Linked DNA regions of Homo sapiens. The protein of the gene in region 4 purifies or fractionates together with the protein of the main gene of each other region. This does not show direct contact. Each region holds a gene or a part of one and is shown on either strand. Other genes may lie near its edges. The genes, in order: EIF4ENIF1, ECH1, CEP135, MCRIP1 and ITM2B.

What was found.
Region 1: the proteins of MCRIP1 (region 4) and EIF4ENIF1 fractionate together in Homo sapiens (co-fractionation; one large-scale study listed by IntAct). This does not show direct contact.
Region 2: the proteins of MCRIP1 (region 4) and ECH1 purify together in Homo sapiens (co-immunoprecipitation; one large-scale study listed by IntAct). This does not show direct contact.
Region 3: the proteins of MCRIP1 (region 4) and CEP135 purify together in Homo sapiens (co-immunoprecipitation; one large-scale study listed by IntAct). This does not show direct contact.
Region 5: the proteins of MCRIP1 (region 4) and ITM2B purify together in Homo sapiens (co-immunoprecipitation; one large-scale study listed by IntAct). This does not show direct contact.

Annotation. Positions count from the first base shown.
Region 1 is NC_000022.11:31,483,335-31,486,852, forward strand, and holds part of EIF4ENIF1 (eukaryotic translation initiation factor 4E transporter), read right to left. Parts: intron 1-3,518. UniProt on the Homo sapiens protein: EIF4E-binding protein that regulates translation and stability of mRNAs in processing bodies (P-bodies). Plays a key role in P-bodies to coordinate the storage of translationally inactive mRNAs in the cytoplasm and prevent their degradation.
Region 2 is NC_000019.10:38,821,788-38,825,305, reverse strand, and holds part of ECH1 (delta(3,5)-Delta(2,4)-dienoyl-CoA isomerase, mitochondrial precursor), read left to right. Parts: intron 1-1,908; exon of another isoform or gene 1,909-2,466; intron 2,467-3,518. UniProt on the Homo sapiens protein: Isomerization of 3-trans,5-cis-dienoyl-CoA to 2-trans,4-trans-dienoyl-CoA.
Region 3 is NC_000004.12:55,955,432-55,958,949, forward strand, and holds part of CEP135 (centrosomal protein of 135 kDa), read left to right. Parts: intron 1-1,791; coding exon 1,792-1,933; intron 1,934-3,518. UniProt on the Homo sapiens protein: Centrosomal microtubule-binding protein involved in centriole biogenesis. Acts as a scaffolding protein during early centriole biogenesis.
Region 4 is NC_000017.11:81,826,777-81,830,294, forward strand, and holds part of MCRIP1 (mapk-regulated corepressor-interacting protein 1), read right to left. Parts: intron 1-3,518. UniProt on the Homo sapiens protein: The phosphorylation status of MCRIP1 functions as a molecular switch to regulate epithelial-mesenchymal transition. Unphosphorylated MCRIP1 binds to and inhibits the transcriptional corepressor CTBP(s).
Region 5 is NC_000013.11:48,253,704-48,257,221, forward strand, and holds part of ITM2B (integral membrane protein 2B), read left to right. Parts: intron 1-104; coding exon 105-233; intron 234-2,473; coding exon 2,474-2,680; intron 2,681-3,518. UniProt on the Homo sapiens protein: Plays a regulatory role in the processing of the amyloid-beta A4 precursor protein (APP) and acts as an inhibitor of the amyloid-beta peptide aggregation and fibrils deposition. Plays a role in the induction of neurite outgrowth.

The DNA.
Region 1 (3,518 bases), on a different chromosome or scaffold from region 4:
GACTACAGGCAATACGCCACCATACCTAGCTAATTTTTAAATTTTTTTTGTAGTGACAGGGTCTTGTCATCCTGCCCAGGCTGGTCTTGAACTCCTGGGCTCAAGCAATCCTCCCATCTCAGTCTCCCTAACTGCTGGGATTACAAGTGTGAGCCACCACACCCAGCGAGCAGGTGATCATTTCTTAAGCCAATGGTTCTCAAACTTGAACCAGAGCCAGAATCCCCTGAAGAGCTTGTTAAATGCAGACGGTTAAGCTCTACTCCCCAAGTTTCTCCTTTAATACCACTGAGAAGAGGCCTGAGATTTGTATTTCTAACAAGTTACCAGATGATGCTAATGCTAGTTCAGGGAGCACACTTTGAGAACCACTGTCTAAACCACTCTTAAACCATAACTTTCAGGTGAGACCCCACTCTATAACCTCCAAAAGTCCTTCAACATGATCCGATCACTTTAAAAATGCATACTTAGATACTACCAAAATATAGCTTTTGGTCTTAGGAATGTGGCCTAGAAAACAGACCAGCATTTATAACTTAGGGGTTCAAGACCCTCAGGGTAACAGGTGCATATGATAAACCCATTTATAACCATCCCACAATGAGATTTAGGAGTAGGTCTGAATGCACCCAATGTGACTCTAACTTGAGGTCCTAAAATATTCTTCGAAGCACAATGAACATCATCTGAACCCCAAAGAATAACTATGCATCTGAGTTACTTGACACCACCAACACCATTTATCAAGTTCTCTAAGGAAGACCAAAGCCTTGATACTTAAAGTATAGTCAGTGGACCAGCAGCATGTGCACCACTTGGGAGTGGGTTAAAAAGTAGAATCTTCAGGACCACCCCTGCTTACCACTCAGAATTCCTTTCCCAAGGCCTAAAGGTGATCCCCCAGGCATATTAACATTTGCGAAACAAGCTAACTAAAGGATGTCTTCACACAAAAGGAAACTCTGGTACATTACTCTGAAAAGCACCTGACCAAAACATTTATACTTCTTCTACTCATGGGGGAAAAACAAAAACTCTTCGAATTCTGAACAACAAACTACTAACATTATCCCAGAAAGCAACTGAACACTAAACTAAGAAGGGTCAATGGTTAAGGGGCCCTCTCATCTGGCCAACGTGTTTTTTTGACCCTGTAAGTAAACATACACAGCTACAAGTTTCCACAGAATACACCACCTATTTAAAAAAAAAAAAAAATCACCGGCCGGCTCACACCTGTAATCCCAGCAGTTTGGGAAGCCAAGGTGGGCGGATCACCTGAGGTCGGGAGTTTGACACCAGCCTGACCAACATGGAGAAACCCTGTCACTACTAAAAAGACAAAAATTAGCCGGGCGTGGTGGCGCATGCTTGTAATCCCAGCTACTCAGGAAGGTGAAGCAGGAGAATAGGTTGAACCTGGGGCGGAGGTTGCGGTGAGCGGAGATGGCGCCATTGCACTCCAGCCTGGGCAACAAGAGTGAAACTCCACCTCAAAATCACCAGTGAAAACAGTTTCCCTCTACTGCTTCTAGATCTTCTAGCCCGTGAACTTGAAGTGGCAGAAACATCATTAAAGTCTATTTATTCCAGTACTTTGATCTCAGTACATAGACAAGGAAGAAGGATGGTTTGAATATTATTCCAGTTGTGGAACTAACATATTTATTATAGTGCTAGGAACACATAATCATTTCAAGCTCTCTTTAAAGGGAGAAGACTTCTTTATCCCCAAGTCCCGCATAGAATTACTAGAGTGTTGAAAACCATGAAAGCACTACCCTAACACTGCCTAAACACTATCCTAAAATTGTCATTAACTAAATCCTCTTAAGAGTAGAAAGTAAACCTATTTCCAATTAATTTGGTAGAAAAGACTTAAATCTAAGCTCCACTGTCATTAAGCTAAAAAATGCTTTTAACCAGTTCTTCAAGGCACATTTATCTACGTATGACAGAATTCTGAGGCTGGACTGTCAAAAATGGACAATACTGAGGTTCTTAATCTTTACTGCAAAGAAACATAAGTCCTACCCTAAGAAAGAGAAATATCTCCCTAAAAATGATGTAAGCATAAAGATAGAAACATACACAAAGATGAAATATACATGTTAACCTCTGATCGGTGTGTGAAAGTGATTCAAAAGCCTCTCTGCCTGGACTCTACCAGTAGACTACTGGTTAGAACTTTAGTGAAAAAAATACTGGAAAGGGTGGGTGTGGTGGCTCACACCTATAATCCCAGCACTTTGGAAGGCTGAGGTGGGTGGATCACCTGAGGTCAGGAGTTCAAGACAGGACTGACCAACATACAAAATTAGCCAGGCATGGTGGTGCATGCCTGTAATCCCACCTACTCAGGAGGCTGAGGCAGGAGAATTGCTTGAACCCGGGAAGCGGAGGTTGCAGTGAGCCAAGATCGTGCCATTGCACTCCAGCCTGAGCAGCAGGAGTGAAACTCCATCTCAAAAAAATAAAAATAAAAGTACTGGAAGGGGCCAGGCTCGGTGGCTCACACCTATAATCCCAGCACTTTGGGAGGCCTAGGTGGGTGGATCACCTGAGCTCAGGAGTTCAACACCAGCAACACAGTGAAACCGTCTCTACTAAAAATACAAAAAAAAATAGGCCAGGTGCAGTGGCTCACACCTATAATTCCAGCATTTTGGGGGGCCGAGGCGGGTGGATCACCTGAGGTCAGGAGTTCGAGACCAGCGAGGTCAGGAGTTTGAGACCAGCCTGGCCAACATGGCAAAACCCTGTCTCTACTAAAAATACAAAAATGAGCTGGGCGTGGTGGCACATGCCTGTAATCCCAGCTACTTGGGAGGCTGAGGCAGCAGAATCACTTGAACCCCGGAGGCGGAGACTGCAGTGAGCCGAGATAGCATCATTGCACTCCAGCCTCGGCGACAAGAGCGAAACTCCGTCTCAAAAAAAAAAAAATAAAAATAAAAATAAAAATACAAAAACAAAATTAGCTGGGTGTGGCAGCGTGCACCTGTAGTCCCAGCTACTTGGGAGGCTGAGGCAGGAGAATCGCTTGAACCAGGGAGGCAGAGGTTGCAGTGAGCCGAGATTGCACCACTACACTCCAGCCTGGGCGACACAGTGAGACTCCGGCTCAAAAAAAATAATAAACAAAAAGTACTGGAAGGGGGCCAGGTGCAGTGGCTCACACGTGTAATCCCAGCACTTTGGGAGGCTGAGGCAGGTGAATCACTTGAGTTCAGGATTTCAAGACCAGCCTGGCCAACATGGCAAGATCCCGTCTCCACTAAAACTACAAAAATTAGCTGGGCATGGTGGCGCACGCCTGTAGTCCCAGCTACTTGGGAGGCTGATGCAGGATAATCACTTGAACCCAGGAGGCAGAGGCTAGTGAATCAAGATCGCACCATTGCACTCTGGTGATAGAGCGAGACTCCGTCTCAAAGAAACAAAAAAATAAGTACTGGAACGGCTGGGCGCAGTGGCTCACGCCTGTGATCCCAGCACTTTGGGAGGCCAAGGCG
Region 2 (3,518 bases), on a different chromosome or scaffold from region 4:
CTAGAACACAGGTCAACAGATGTTTACGACTCCAGTCCCCATGATCTAAGTCAAGGTCCCAGTGGGGATCCATACTGGGGATGGCTTGCTGACCGATAGGGAATTTGTCCCTTTCTTCAGGTGTCATTCTATCATTTACTTGATTAAGATTCCAGGTATCTCCAAACTCTCAGGCTGCAGCTAAAGCTGCATTCTTTTCATTAAAGGCCAGGGTTTGATCTAACAGTAGCATGACATCTCTCCAAGCGAGGTCGAAAGTTTGCCCTAGACCCTGTAGGGCATGTATGTACCTATCAGGATCATCTGAAAACTTCCCCAGGTCTGCCTTGATCTGCTTTAAATCAGAGATGGAGAAGGGGACATGTACCCGGGTGGGACCAAATTCCCCTCCCCCTACAGCTTGAAGGGGACATAACCAATAGCCAGGAGGGTTTTGTGGTCCTTTGGAGATTTCTTTGCATATTTCCTTCTGGGCAGGGGAGATTAGAGGAAGATTATCATTAATAGGAATGGGAGCTATAGGGAGGCTAGGATATGGTGGTAAGCTGAGAGGTCCTCCTGTGGGATGTAAATTGTAAGCTTTGCATAGTTGTGTATTCTCCCTCCATGAAAAGAAAGCTTGGACATAAGGTATTTCACTCCATTTGCCTTCCCTCTTACAGAAAAGGTCAAGCTGCAGGATAGTATTGTAATTTGTACTTCCCTCAGGTGGCCATTTTTCCCCATCAGAGAGAGAATACTGGGGCCAGGCCATAGTGCAGAAAAAAAATGAGCCTCCTCTTTTTCAGGGTTTATGGGTCAAATTGGTCCCAACGGCTTAGGATGCATTTCAAGGGTGAGCCTGTTGATGGCTGAATGTTTCCCATCTGAAAGACAAAACCACCCGCGGTTTTGGTTTGTTTTGTTTCTCCCCCTGCCCAAGAAACTGCAACAGTCCCTGTACCCTGCTGATCGGAATAGTTGTGCTCATCAACGCAGCAGCAGAAACACTAGTTTTCCTCTCAGACCACATGGAGGACCAAGGAAGGTCGGATTTAGTGGCCCTTACCGACGCATTCTTGAAAACCTGTTAGAGTTCTAAGCATTCTCCTGTTAGTATTGGGACTTTACCCCTGTCCTATAAAGATGTTATGCCCCAAAAATGAAGTGGAGGGCCATACCCTGAGGGAGGGAAGGGATCTCCAGGGTTGGAAGAGTGACACCTTTTGTCCTCACTTATATGAATAGGAAAGCTACAATTTCTGAGGCTCCCCATATCCTAGCTTCAGGAATACCTTTGTTAGGCCTGTTAGTCTGAGGAGGGATCGTAAAATTCCAGGTAGTCGCCACTATGACAGGGCTTTGGGCAAAAATTATGTCTTTCTGATTGGTGAGCCTGGGTGCCTAAAGAATGTAACAGAGTTCTAGAAGTCGTTCTTATAGGAGAAACTAGAAAAGCACCAGAGACAGCAAATTTTAGAAGCAGGACTAAACTCGGAGAAGAGAGGTGAGAGGAAGTTTGTCTGGCAGGCATTAGGACCCGGGGGCAAGAGTCAGGATAGATAGGATAGATGGGCGAGTCTCGCTTGGGCGACATGCCTTTGAGTGTTCCGCTCATGGCTGCAGGGTCAACGAACTTGTTGTCTTGTCGGGACCCTAGAGCTGCATGGCTTTCCTCTCTGTCGACCCTCGGCTCAGCCCAGAAGTACAGGAAAAGCAGAAGCTGGTTCTAGGCAAACCAACGCTCCCAACTCCAAAGAGTCGGGAGTTGTTAGAGAGCCCTTTCCCAGAAAGCCTGACACCCATGTCTTTAGTCCAGCGGCCATGCTAGTCACTTTTAACTGGCAGACAGGTGCCTGGTATTTAGCCCCCAAATTCTAAGGAAAAATAGGACAGAATAGCAAGTGAAAGGGGTCCAGTGGTACTCACTGCTTGGCGATAGGTGATAGTCTCACCGCTCAGCGATAGGCAGTGGTCTCACCGCTTGGCGATAGGTAATAGTCCCATCTGGGTCACCAAAATGTATCCGGAATTGGTGGGTTCTTGGTCTCACTGACTTCAAGAATGAAGCCGCAGAATCTCGTGGTGAGTGTTACAGTTCTTAAAGGCGGCATGTCCGCAGTTTGTTCCTTCTGATGTGTTCGGAGTTTGTTCCTTCTGATGTTTGGGTGTGTTCAGAGTTTCTTCCTTCTGGTGGGTTCGTGGTCTCGCTGGCTTCAGGAATGAAGCTGCAGACCTTCGCAGTGAGTGTTATAGCTCTTAAGGCGGTGCGTCCAGAGTGGTTCGTTCCTCCCGTCCGGAGTTGTTCATTCCTCCCAGTGGGTTCGTGGTCTTGCTGGCCTCTGGAGAGAAGTTGCAGACCTTCGCGGTGAGTGTTATGGCTCATAAAGGCAGTGTGGACCCAAAGAGTGAGCAGCAGCAAGATTTATTGCAAAGAGCAAAAGAACAGAGCTTCCATAGCATGGAAGGGGACGTGAGTGGGTTGCCACTGCTGGCTCGGACAGCCTGCTTTTATTCCCTTATCTGTCCCCACCCACATCCTGCTGGTTGGTCCGTTTTACAGAGAGCTGATTGGTCTGTTTTACAGAGAGCTGATTGGTCCATTTTGACAGGGTGCTGACTGGTGCGTTTACAATCCCTGAGCTAGACACAAAACTTCTCCAAGTCCCCACTAGATTAGCTAGACACAGAGCACTGATTGGTGCATTTACAAACCTTGAGCTAGACACAGGGTGCTGATTGGTGTATTTACAAACCTTGAGCTAGACACACAGTGCTGATTGGTGTATTTACAATCCCTTAGCTAGACATAAAGATTCTCCAAGTCCCCACCAGATTAGCTAGATACAGAGTGCTGATTGGTGCATTTACAAACCTTGAGCTAGACATAGGGTGCTGATTGGTGCATTTACAAACCTTGAGCTAGACACAGAGTGCTGATTGGTTGTTTACAATCCCTTAGCTAGACATAAAGAGTCTCCAAGTCCCCACCAGATTAGCTAGATACAGAGTGCTGATTGGTGCATTTACAAACCTTGAGCTAGACACAGGGTGCTGATTGGTGCATTTACAAACCTTGAGCTAGACACAGAGTGCTGATTGGTTGTTTACAATCCCTTAGCTAGACATAAAGTTTCTCCAAGTCCCCACCAGATGAGCTAGACACAGAGCATTGATTGGTGCATTTACAAACCTTGAGCTAGACACAGGGTGCTGATTGGTGCATTTACAAACCTTGAGCTAGAAACAGAGTGCTGATTGGTGTATTTACAATCCCTTAGCTAGACATAAACGTTCTCCAAGTCCCCACCAGATTAGCTAGATACAGAGTGCTGATTGGTGCATTTACAGTCCCTCAGCTAGACATAAATGTTCTCCAAATCCCCACTAGACTCAGGAGCTCAGCTGGCTTCACCCAGTGGATCCTGCACCAGGGCCGCAGGCGGAGCACTCCTCAGCCCTTGGGCAGTTGATGGGACCAGGCGCCGCCGAGCAGGGGGTGGCGCTCCTCGGGGAGGCTCGGGCTGTGCAGGAGCCCA
Region 3 (3,518 bases), on a different chromosome or scaffold from region 4:
AGAGTGGACAGATTAGAACTGTGAAGCCAGGTGGGGGAAGACTCAGTGGAGCGTGAGATAGTTTAGTAAATGAGATAGATGGACATGGGGACTGTGAGCAAAAGGCAGAAGAGATAGAGAAAAGTGGGAGTCAACCTTGAAAGTAACTAGAAGATTAAGGCAAAAAAGAGGATAATCAGGTTTCCTGAGGAAAGAATGGGATAGACTCCGGAGAGATTCAAGATGTATAATCAAGATAGTGAGTAAATGTAGATTTGGGAAGCAGAGGAATTCTCAGACTTCTCTTTCGAGTGAATGAGTTAGGTGGAGGGTGATACTATTTCTTAAGTTAGAGAATGTGGGAAGCAGAGCAGGAGTCCACTTTTGGATGTGTGGAGTATGCTATACCCACAAGACATTCATGTCTAAATTTTTGGCAAACAGTGGGATATGTAGATCTGTTCTCAAAAGTGTGGGCCCTGGTGGAGATGCAAATTTAAGAGTCATTGGAGTCTCATGGTAATTGAAGCTATGGGTGTAGTAAGAATTATCTAGTGAGATTATGTAGACTGGGAAGAGAGGAGACCCAGAGTCAGATGTGAGGGAAATTGGTATTTAAGGGACAGGTGGAAGAAGACAGTTTCTGAAAGAAACTGAGGAGCCACCAAGGAGGAAAACCAGGAGGTAAAGAAAGAAGGAATGGTTAGCTTTGTTCAGGTGTGTGAACAAACAGGTCATTTAAATACTTTTGGCCCAGTTTTCTTATCCTTAAAACTCCTTTTGTATACTCCTACCTCTGTAGGAGTATACAAAATTTGTTAGAATTCTAATGAGACAAAATTGTGGATTATGTTTGTTCTTCACAAGGATCTGCTGGTTTTTCAAATACACTTCTAATCTTGGCAAAATCCTTAAAGAGATAAATTGTCCATGTATTTTTGACCAAGACAAGATATATCTAGCCATAAGAAAATTTAGTCCTACTACTTGTAGAGGTTAAGAAAACATTCCCTCCTAATTCAGATTATAGCATGACTTTATATTATAGATGACATTCCATTCATTCTAACTTTGCTACTTACAATTTCAGTTATCTTTTATGTTGATATTAGCTAATAACCACGCATATTTTAGTTCTCACTGCCAGTTTTCTGCTAGTGATAATTTCTTGAGCTCATAATAGTGAACACCACAGGCACATTCAGCTTTTTTTTTTTGAGATGGAGTTTCACTCTTGTTGCCCAGGTTAGAGTGCAGTGGCGCAATCTTGGCCCACCACAACCTCGGCCTCCCGGGTTCAAGAGATTCTCCTGCCTCAGCCTCCCAAGTAGCTGGGATTACAGGTGCCCGTTACCACGCCCAGCTAATTTTTTTGTATTTTTAGTAGAGACGGGGTTTCACCATGTTGGCCAGGCTTGGTCTCGAACTCCCAACCTCAGGTGATCCACCCGCCTCGGCCTTCCAAAGTGCTGGGATTATAGGTGTGAGCCGCCATACCTGGCCGCATTCAGCTTTTAAACTTGCCAAAGTCTTATCCCCATCTAGTGGGCAAACATATTAAGCCTGGGCATATATGCCAAGCTTGCAGGCATATAAAACTTGTTTGATAACCATGTCTTGTTGAGGTTTTTAGGAATGCATTGTTTAGTTAAAGATCAGGGTGGATATTTATATATTGATGGAGAAAATATTTTGTCAATATGTATTATGAACTGCAGACACACTTTATAACCGAAAGGCTAACCTGGAATATTTAATTCTAAGACATGGTTTTGTTTCTTCTTAGTTTTTTAAGACACTCATTCTTTTTAGGTGGCAAGAAAAGAAGTATTGCTTTCAGGCGCCAGCGTATGCAAATTGATGAACCGGTTCCTCCCTCTGAAGTCAGTTCATATCCAGTTCCTCAACCAGATGACCCTTACATTGCAGACCTCCTTCAAGTGGCTGATAACAGGTGCATTAAATAATTCTTTCTTGGCTTGAGTTAATTGAGCACTCAATTAGCTGTAAGTTTCTTGATAGGAGGGCTTTTTTTCTTGTTAACTGTTGTGTCTCCAGTGTCTAGCACAGAACTTTGCACCGGCACTCAGTAAATACTTCCAGATTGATATAAAATGTTTTTACTTGTTTTGAAACTTTGATCAAATGGATCATATATCTAAGGTTTCTGTTCATACTGGCTTAAAAATTATTGCCATCAAGAACCTGTTTAAGTAGAGCTGCTTTGACATTTTGTGTTGTCTCCAAATAAGAGGTATCTTTTGCAAGAATCTTTATTGCTTCAGATTTGTGTCAAATGTCAGTTAAATATGAAGAGATGTGTAACTGGATTTGAAATTCCTTTTTTAATGGTTTCTCTAGCTCTGTGTTTATATTTCCTTACATTTGAATCATATATAAATTCCATTTGATTGAAATGTTATTAAACCTCCTGGGCAAGGCACTGTGTAAGTGTTCTGAGGATATAAAGATGAAGAAGATGGTGTTTCTGTTTTTGAGAAGCTTGTAGTCCAGTACTAGAGATGAGATGAGAAATTCACAAAACACCATTAAGAAAATTATAAGAGGCTCAAAGGAATGGATGAGCACTAGTCTCCACGGTGATAGCTGGAGAAGCATTTCAAACTGTAGAATACACTAATGGAAATAGTTCATGCAGGTAGCTTTTTATTTTGTAGATTATACAGAGAATGTGGGGGGTTTTATTAATCTCAATAGATAAAGCTAAAAAAGAGCACTGGGACCAGGTGCAGTGGATCACGCCTGTTAATCCCAGCACTTTGGGAGGCCAAGGCAGGAGGATCGCTTGAACCCATGAATTCAAGACCAGCCTGGTCAATATAGTGAGACCTTTTCTCTACAAAAAATTTAAAAATTAGCCGAGCATGGTGGCATGCACCTGTAGTCCCAGCTACTTAGGAGGCTGAGGTAGGCAGATCGCTTGAACCTGGGAGGCAGAGGTTGCAATGAGCTGAGATTGAACCACTGCACTTCAGCCTGGGACACAGAGCAAGACCCTTTGAGCTACTGATTAGGATCTCTTCACTCAGTTGTCACATAATATTTTTATATAGTTGTTTGACCTTAACTGGGAAGTGTTTTGTTCTTATTATCTAGGGCTTTTCAGATAATGTGTTTGTATTATTTAGGGAATTATTTGGGCTGCATAAGTGACATTAGTCTTTTTTAATTGTCCTGTTTAATTTATATATGCACATTTTGTTTGTATTCAGAGTCATTCATGCATTTATATGAGTGCAGTTGCATACATACTCTTCTCCTAAACCTAGATTAGTAGAAAATGTTGGTTCCAGTTAACATCAGGTACAAGCCGTATCCAGCCTCATTTACTCCACCCCATGGAAAATCTCTTTTAAAAACAAACCTGGGGCTGGAAGCACTGTGGTTCACGCCTGTAATCCCAGCACTTTGGTAGGCCGAGGCAGGAGGATTGCTTAAAGCCCAGGAGTTCAAGACCAGCTTCGACAATGTGGAAAAACTCTCTCTCTACAAAAAATTTAAAAATTACCCAAGTGTGG
Region 4 (3,518 bases):
CAACGCACTCCAGCCTGGGCGACAGAGCAAGACTCCATCTCAAAAAAAAAAAAAAAAAAAAGGCCAGGCGTGGTGGCTCACGCCTGTAATCCCAGCACTTTGGGAGGCCGAGGCGGGTGGATCACAAGGTCAGGAGTTCAAGACCAGCCTGGCCAATATGGTGAAACCCTGTCTCTACTAAAAATACAAAAATTAGCTGGATGTGGTGGTGGGCACCTGTGGTCCCAGCTACTCAGGAGGCTGAGGCAGGAGAAGTGCTTGAACCTGGGAGGCGGAGGTTGCAGTGAGCCGAGATCGTGCCACTGCACTCCAGCTTGGGCGACAGAGCAAGACTCCGTCTAAAAGAAAAAAAAAAAAAGCCAGGTACGGTTGCTGGCCTATTAAAATAGGCCTGTAATCCCAACACTTTGGGAGGCTAAAGAGGGCAGATCACTTGAGCCCAAGAGTTCAAAACCAGCCTGGGCAACATGGCAAAATCCCATTTCTTTTATTTATTTATTTATTTATTTATTTGAGATGGAGTCTCGCTCTGCTGCCCAGGCTGGAGTGCAGTGGCGCCATCTTGGCTCACTGCAAGCTCCGCCTCCCGGGTTCACGCCATTCTCCCGCCTCAGCCTCCCAAGTGGCTGGGACTACAGAAGCCCGCCACCACGCCCAGCTAATTTTTTGTATTATTAGTAGAGACGGGATTTCGTCCTGTTAGCCAGGATGGTCTCGATCTCCTGACCTTGTGATCCACCCACCTGGGCCTCCCAAAGTGCTGGGATTACAGTCGTGAGCCACCACGCCCGGCCGGCAAAATCCCATTTCTACAAAAATATAAAAACTTTGGCAGGAGTGATGGCTGAGGTGGTAGGATTGCTTGAGCTTGGGAGGTGGAGGCTGTGGTGAGCCATGATCATACCACTGCACTCCAGCCTGGGTGACAGAGGGAGACTCTGTCTCTAAGTAAATAAATTTAAAACCCCATAAATATATACACCTATTGTGCACCCATACATTTTTTTTTTTTTTTTTTTTTTGAGATGGAGTCTCGCTCTGTCGTCCAGGGTGGAGTGCAGTGGCGCGATCTTGGCTCACTGCAAGCTCCGCCTCCCGGGTTGACGCCATTCTCCTGCCTCAGCCTCTCGAGTCGCTGGGACTATAGGCGCCCGCCACCACGCCCAGCTAATTTTTTCTATTTTTAGTGGAGATGGGGTTTCACTGTGTTAGTCAGGATGGTCTCGATCTCCTGACCTCGTGATCCATCTGCTTCGGCCTCCCAAAGTGCTGAGATTACAGGTGTGAGCTACCACACCCAGCTGCACCCATACAGTTTTTTAAGTCAACAAGGAGTCTCGTTTGCCTCCTCTTGTTAGGAAAAGAAATGTACCCACACCCTCAATACCACAGGCTGTGTCCTCTAAGTCTTCCCAGACACGAAGAGCCCTTCCCACCTCTCCCTACTTCTTCCTCCAGCTTAGGGACCCCCAGGGCCTCACACTGCCCCCCCACCCCCCGACCCTGCACACATAGCCCCAGGCTTTCCTGGATGTGCCAGCAGTTCCAAGAGGCCAGGGGCCTGCTGTCCCCCTGGAAGCACAATAAACGGTTCTGCAGCTCATTCAGCCTCACTGCCTCCTGGGGCCCTGCCAAGGAGCTGGGTGCCCAATTCTGACCCAGAAGGAATTTTCCATTAAAAATCAAGTATCTGTGCACAACCTATGACCCAGCCATTCTGCTCCTAGGTACACACACCCAAGATGCGTACAAGGACAGCTGGAGAATTTCACTCGTAATTACCCAAAGGGAAGAGCCACCGCAGAAGGGTAGCAATGCACACCTGGCCTATTCCCATAAGGGAATCAGCAGCCAGAGGGGGCACCACAGCCCCCACGCAGAGACGGACACCAAGCACAAGAGCAGGACCTGAGGGGCCACAGACAGGCCCTGGGACACATGGAATGGGAGGAAGCTGCAGAGGGCCGAGGCATGGACATAACTGGAGCCGGGGCCAGGACGGTGCCTGTGAGGGCAGGAAGGAGCCATCCACGGAGAGGGCTGGAGGTCAAGCAAGCTCTGAACCAAGAGGTCACCATGGAGCCACAATAAGGCCTCCAACAACCTCAGCGGGGCGGCCTAGCATAGTGAGGCACACAGCTGAGGGGGGAGGGCAGGAAGTGTGGCTGGCAGGCAGCTCAGCCCTAGCTCAGGCCTGGTGGGCAGCAGGCTGGTGTCTGGCTAAGCAGAGGGAACCCTGAGGCACAACATCCATGCATGGGGTCCCTGAGGTGGTGGATGTGGAGGGACCCAGGACCATAGTGGGTGAGAGTGAGCAGGGGACAATGGCACAGGCCCAGAGAAGCGCCGGGGGCAGCCGGAAAAGACCCAGCACACGGCAGACGGCCACCTGAGGTGGCAGCCCCTGAGCCAGCAGGAGACTGACACCTCAGCTGCCCAGGTAAAGGGGAGTGGCGGCCTGACCGAGGCCGACCACAGGTGAAGGGTGGGAGGGAGGGGCTCCATTCAGCCCAGAGAGACAGCCCCACTTCAGAGGTCTCGAGACCCCATCCAGCCCGGCCCCCTGCCTTCATCCCACCTGGGCCACCACCAGGGTGACAGCAGTAAGGGAGGGTCAGGCGATGCCTCGGTCCCGTTTTCCTTCCCTCTTTCTGTCAGAATCAAGACCGAGCATGCCGATGTCCCGGCCACGGCCCCGTACTCCTCAGTCGCTACACCACACCCCACTGCCTCTGAGAGTTTTCTTTCATAGTTTTCATATTTTAACATCTTTGAAACTGGGCTGCGCCTGACAATTGCTAACACGTCAGAATTTAACCAATGGTGGTTTTTATTTCTCAATGTACTGTAAAATATAGCGCAGCTCACAATGGCTGGGGTCTCACATGGGAGGACCCTCGATGACACTCTCCTGGCCCAGGACCACCCTTCCAGAGCCCCTCAGGCTACATGGTCTTTAGGTGTTTTCTCCCCTTCCCCTCAAAGTCTTCCACATCCCACGCCACCCCACCCCACCCAGTGCTGGGACAACCTCCAGTTCCAGACACCCAGCATCAGGACAGGTGGACACAGATGTCTACATGATCTTCCTGAAACCCTATCCCCAAGTCACTTAGCACTAGGGTGTCACCCAGGCCCTCTGCTGCCATCAAGCCCACTGTCCAGTCCCAACTTGTTTTACCAGGTGTCACCTGCTGCTCCACTCCTGCCCCAACAGCCTTTGCCACAGGACTACCTGCCACCAGCCACACAGAGCACAGGCCACCTGCAAGTCTGTGCATTCTGCAGGACGTGACTGCCTGCTTCCGTGGCCGTCCAGCCTACAGGGCCTGGCCTACTGGGCTGCAGGTATTCCCCTGCTCTGGGGCCCCGGGCAAGCTCCTCTGAGCCTCAGCATCCTCATTCAAAGTGATGCAGCCCACAGGTAGGCTCGCCTGCTCCAATAGGGACGGAAGCACAGCCATGGAAAGCCAGCAGCTCAGTGAGGTCTCTGTGGCTCCTTATCCAATACGATGATG
Region 5 (3,518 bases), on a different chromosome or scaffold from region 4:
TGTCTTCATTTATTAAAATGATAATCATTAAGGTTTTTCTAGTCCTGAGCCTTCTGTTATTCTGTCTGGAGATAAGATATTTAACTGTCTTTTTCATATTTTAGGACCCAGATGATGTGGTACCAGTTGGCCAAAGAAGAGCCTGGTGTTGGTGCATGTGCTTTGGACTAGCATTTATGCTTGCAGGTGTTATTCTAGGAGGAGCATACTTGTACAAATATTTTGCACTTCAAGTAAGTGGAAAAATTATTTTGTGTCTCTGATTTTTTTTTTTTTTTGCCTCTCCCGATGTGCATTACAAAATTGTTTACAACTTGCGCTAAGCTTGTACTTTTTATCTGTGACCTTCAGCCAGAGTGGTAGTTCTATTTTAAAGCTGTGTTTAAACATCTCTCCATGATATGTTTGCTGAGCCCATCACACACAGTCACTAAAAGCAGAGTAACTTGAAATGTTGGTGACTAAGGGATTTATTTAGGTCATTGGGTGATTTTACTAACCTTTATTTTCCTACTATAATTAAGGGTTGAGAGGAATAGTATTATCAATTGCCAGTTGAATAAATACATCAGCCACAAATGTTTTCATGTTGATAGGCCATAACTTGATAGTCAGCTTGGACTCCCCTATGGTCCTGCTGTACCCTTGGGCCCAGAATACAGTAAGACCATGTCTCTGCTTCTTTTCCAGTCATGGTTTCACTAAAGAACTGGGTGACTTCAGCAGTGATATTGAAATAACATAGGATGAAAGTTGTTTATAACTTTGAGTGTTTAATAGTAATCCCAGTGGGTTAAGACAAAGGTCTTCCTTGTGATTGATTATAATTTACAATCTATTTTGTAATATATTTCTCTTGGCAATAATACACAATTTTTTTTTTTAGGAGTTTTGAAGGGGAAATTACTTTCAAGGTTTTATGACTACTTCAGCTGTTTCAAAATTTGGAGAAACAGTTGACAACTAGACTTATTAAAATAATTTAACTAATTTTGAAACATTCTCAATTTCATGCTCATTTTCTGTGTTGTTCAAGATAATCAATCACATGTTGATAGACATTACCAAAATACTAGTCATCTTTTTAAATACAGTTTTATTTACAAGAAATACATATAGTATAGAAAAAATCATCGCAATTCCATTTTCCAGAGATAACATTTGGTGCATTAACTTTTTTTTTTTTCTTGAGACAGAGTTTCTCTCTTGTTGCCCAGACTGGAGTCCAATGGCGCGATCTCGGCTCACTGCACCCTCTGTCTCCCGGGTTCAGGCAATTCTCCTGCCTCAGCCTCCCAAGTAGCTGAGATTACAGGCACCTGCCACCACTCCTGGCTAATTTTTGTACTTTTAGTAGAGACAGGGTTTCATCATGTTGGCCAGGCTGGTCTCAAACTCCTGACCTCAGGCGATCCACCCACCTTGGCCTCCCAAAGTGCTAGGATTACAGGCGTGACACACCATGCCTGGCCCTGTGCATTCACATTTTGTATACCCTTAGTCTTTATTGTGTGTGTAGTGTGTGTAGTGTGTGTGTGTGTGTGTGTGTGTGCGCGCGCGTGTGCGTGCGCGCACGTGTACATGTACTGTGTGTTTGGCTTTTTTTGAGATGGGGTCTCACTCTGTCATCCAGGCTGGAGTGCGGTGGTGCAATCACAGCTCACTGTAGCCTCAACCTCTTGGGCTCAGGCAATCCTCCCGCCTCAACCTCCCCAGGAGTAGCTAGGACTACAGGTGCGTGGCACCATACCCAGCTAATTTTTTTATTTTTTGTGGAGACAGGGTCTCACCATGTTGCCCAGGCTGGTCTTGAACTCCTGGGCTCAAGCAGTCCATCTGTCTCAGGCCTCCTCCCCACAAAGTATTAGGATTACAGGCATGAGTTACTGCACCCGACCTTATGTACTGTTTTTTCTTTTTGTAAAAGTGAGACAGTAGCATAAAGATTTGCTGTAATCTAATATTTTCCACTGAATTGTGATATAAAGGGAAAAGTAGAACTACGTATATGCATATAGAAATTTCAGAAAAATTATCCCTTTTTTGGCTAATAAGAAAAAAGTCATTTAATTAGTAGACCATATCAAAACTTTTTAATATATTCTTTCAGAAAAACTTGACTAGTTTTGGAATGTATTCTTCTATAAAAACTGCTTACAGGTAGAGTAGGTCTGTTGTTTCTTTATATTTATTTGTTACTGGATAGCTAATTATTTTTATGTTCTATTTTCACCTACCAGGAAAAGTAAAGGGAAAACCAGCTGCCTTTCTTCTGAAGCTGTTCTTTTACAGTGCTTCAAAACCTGATCTTAAAGAATATGTTAACTCTGTAATTAAACTGTCTGACTTGTCATCTAAAAGCAAGAGTTTGCAAGCAAAATGCTATTTAGATAGAGGTGGCAGCTTAAGTAATGCTTATTTAAAAACCTGTCTCATGCTGAATTGCTGAAATGAGTCTTTAAACTCTCTATAGCCAGATGACGTGTACTACTGTGGAATAAAGTACATCAAAGATGATGTCATCTTAAATGAGCCCTCTGCAGATGCCCCAGCTGCTCTCTACCAGACAATTGAAGAAAATATTAAAATCTTTGAAGAAGAAGAAGTTGAATTTATCAGTGTGCCTGTCCCAGAGTTTGCAGATAGTGATCCTGCCAACATTGTTCATGACTTTAACAAGGTGAGCCAAGTGTCCAGAATTGTAGAAAGAATGCAGGTTCTGTAGTTTATGCTTTTTGTAGTTTTAATTTCAATATTTGCTAATTTATTATATTTAGAGTTTAGTTTAATAAACTGTCAGCATTTGGTGGGCTCTGCTATGTCTGAAGCAGACCCTGCTGATGCAGCCTTCTCATATCTTATCTCTCCTTCCCCTTGCCTTACCTACTCTTAAAGCCCACCTCATGACTGTTCCTCCTTTGCTGGCAAACTAATATTTTTTATATGTTCCCACATTTTCTTAGATAAGAGGTAATTTATGTTCCTGTTTCTTGGTAGCATTTTCAAAATCAATAATTTTGTTAATCTGTTTTTAAGTTCTCATTCTATATTTTTCCCCAGCTTTTGAGCATTTTTATGTAATGCAGAAAAGTTGAATACCCAAAATCCTCCACTTTGTTCCAAATATTGCCATATTTGCTTCATCTCTTTTTCTGTCATTTGACATAAGTACTTATGCTATTATCTCTCAAGAATGAGTTGTCCTCCTACGTAACCACATAATTATCACATCTAAGAAAATTAACATGATCTTATAGGACAGTAGTCCCCCCTTATCCGTGGGGGATACATGCCAAGACCCCCAGTGGATGTCTGAAACTGCATATAGTACCAAACCCTGTATATACTATGTTTTTTCCTGTTAGTGTACATATATACATATGTTAAAATTTAATTTACAAATTAGCCACAGTAATAGATTAACGACAATAATAATAAAACAGTTATAACAAAATACTATAATAAAAGTTATGTGAAGGTGGTTTCTCAAAATATTTTATTATGCTGTACTCACCTAG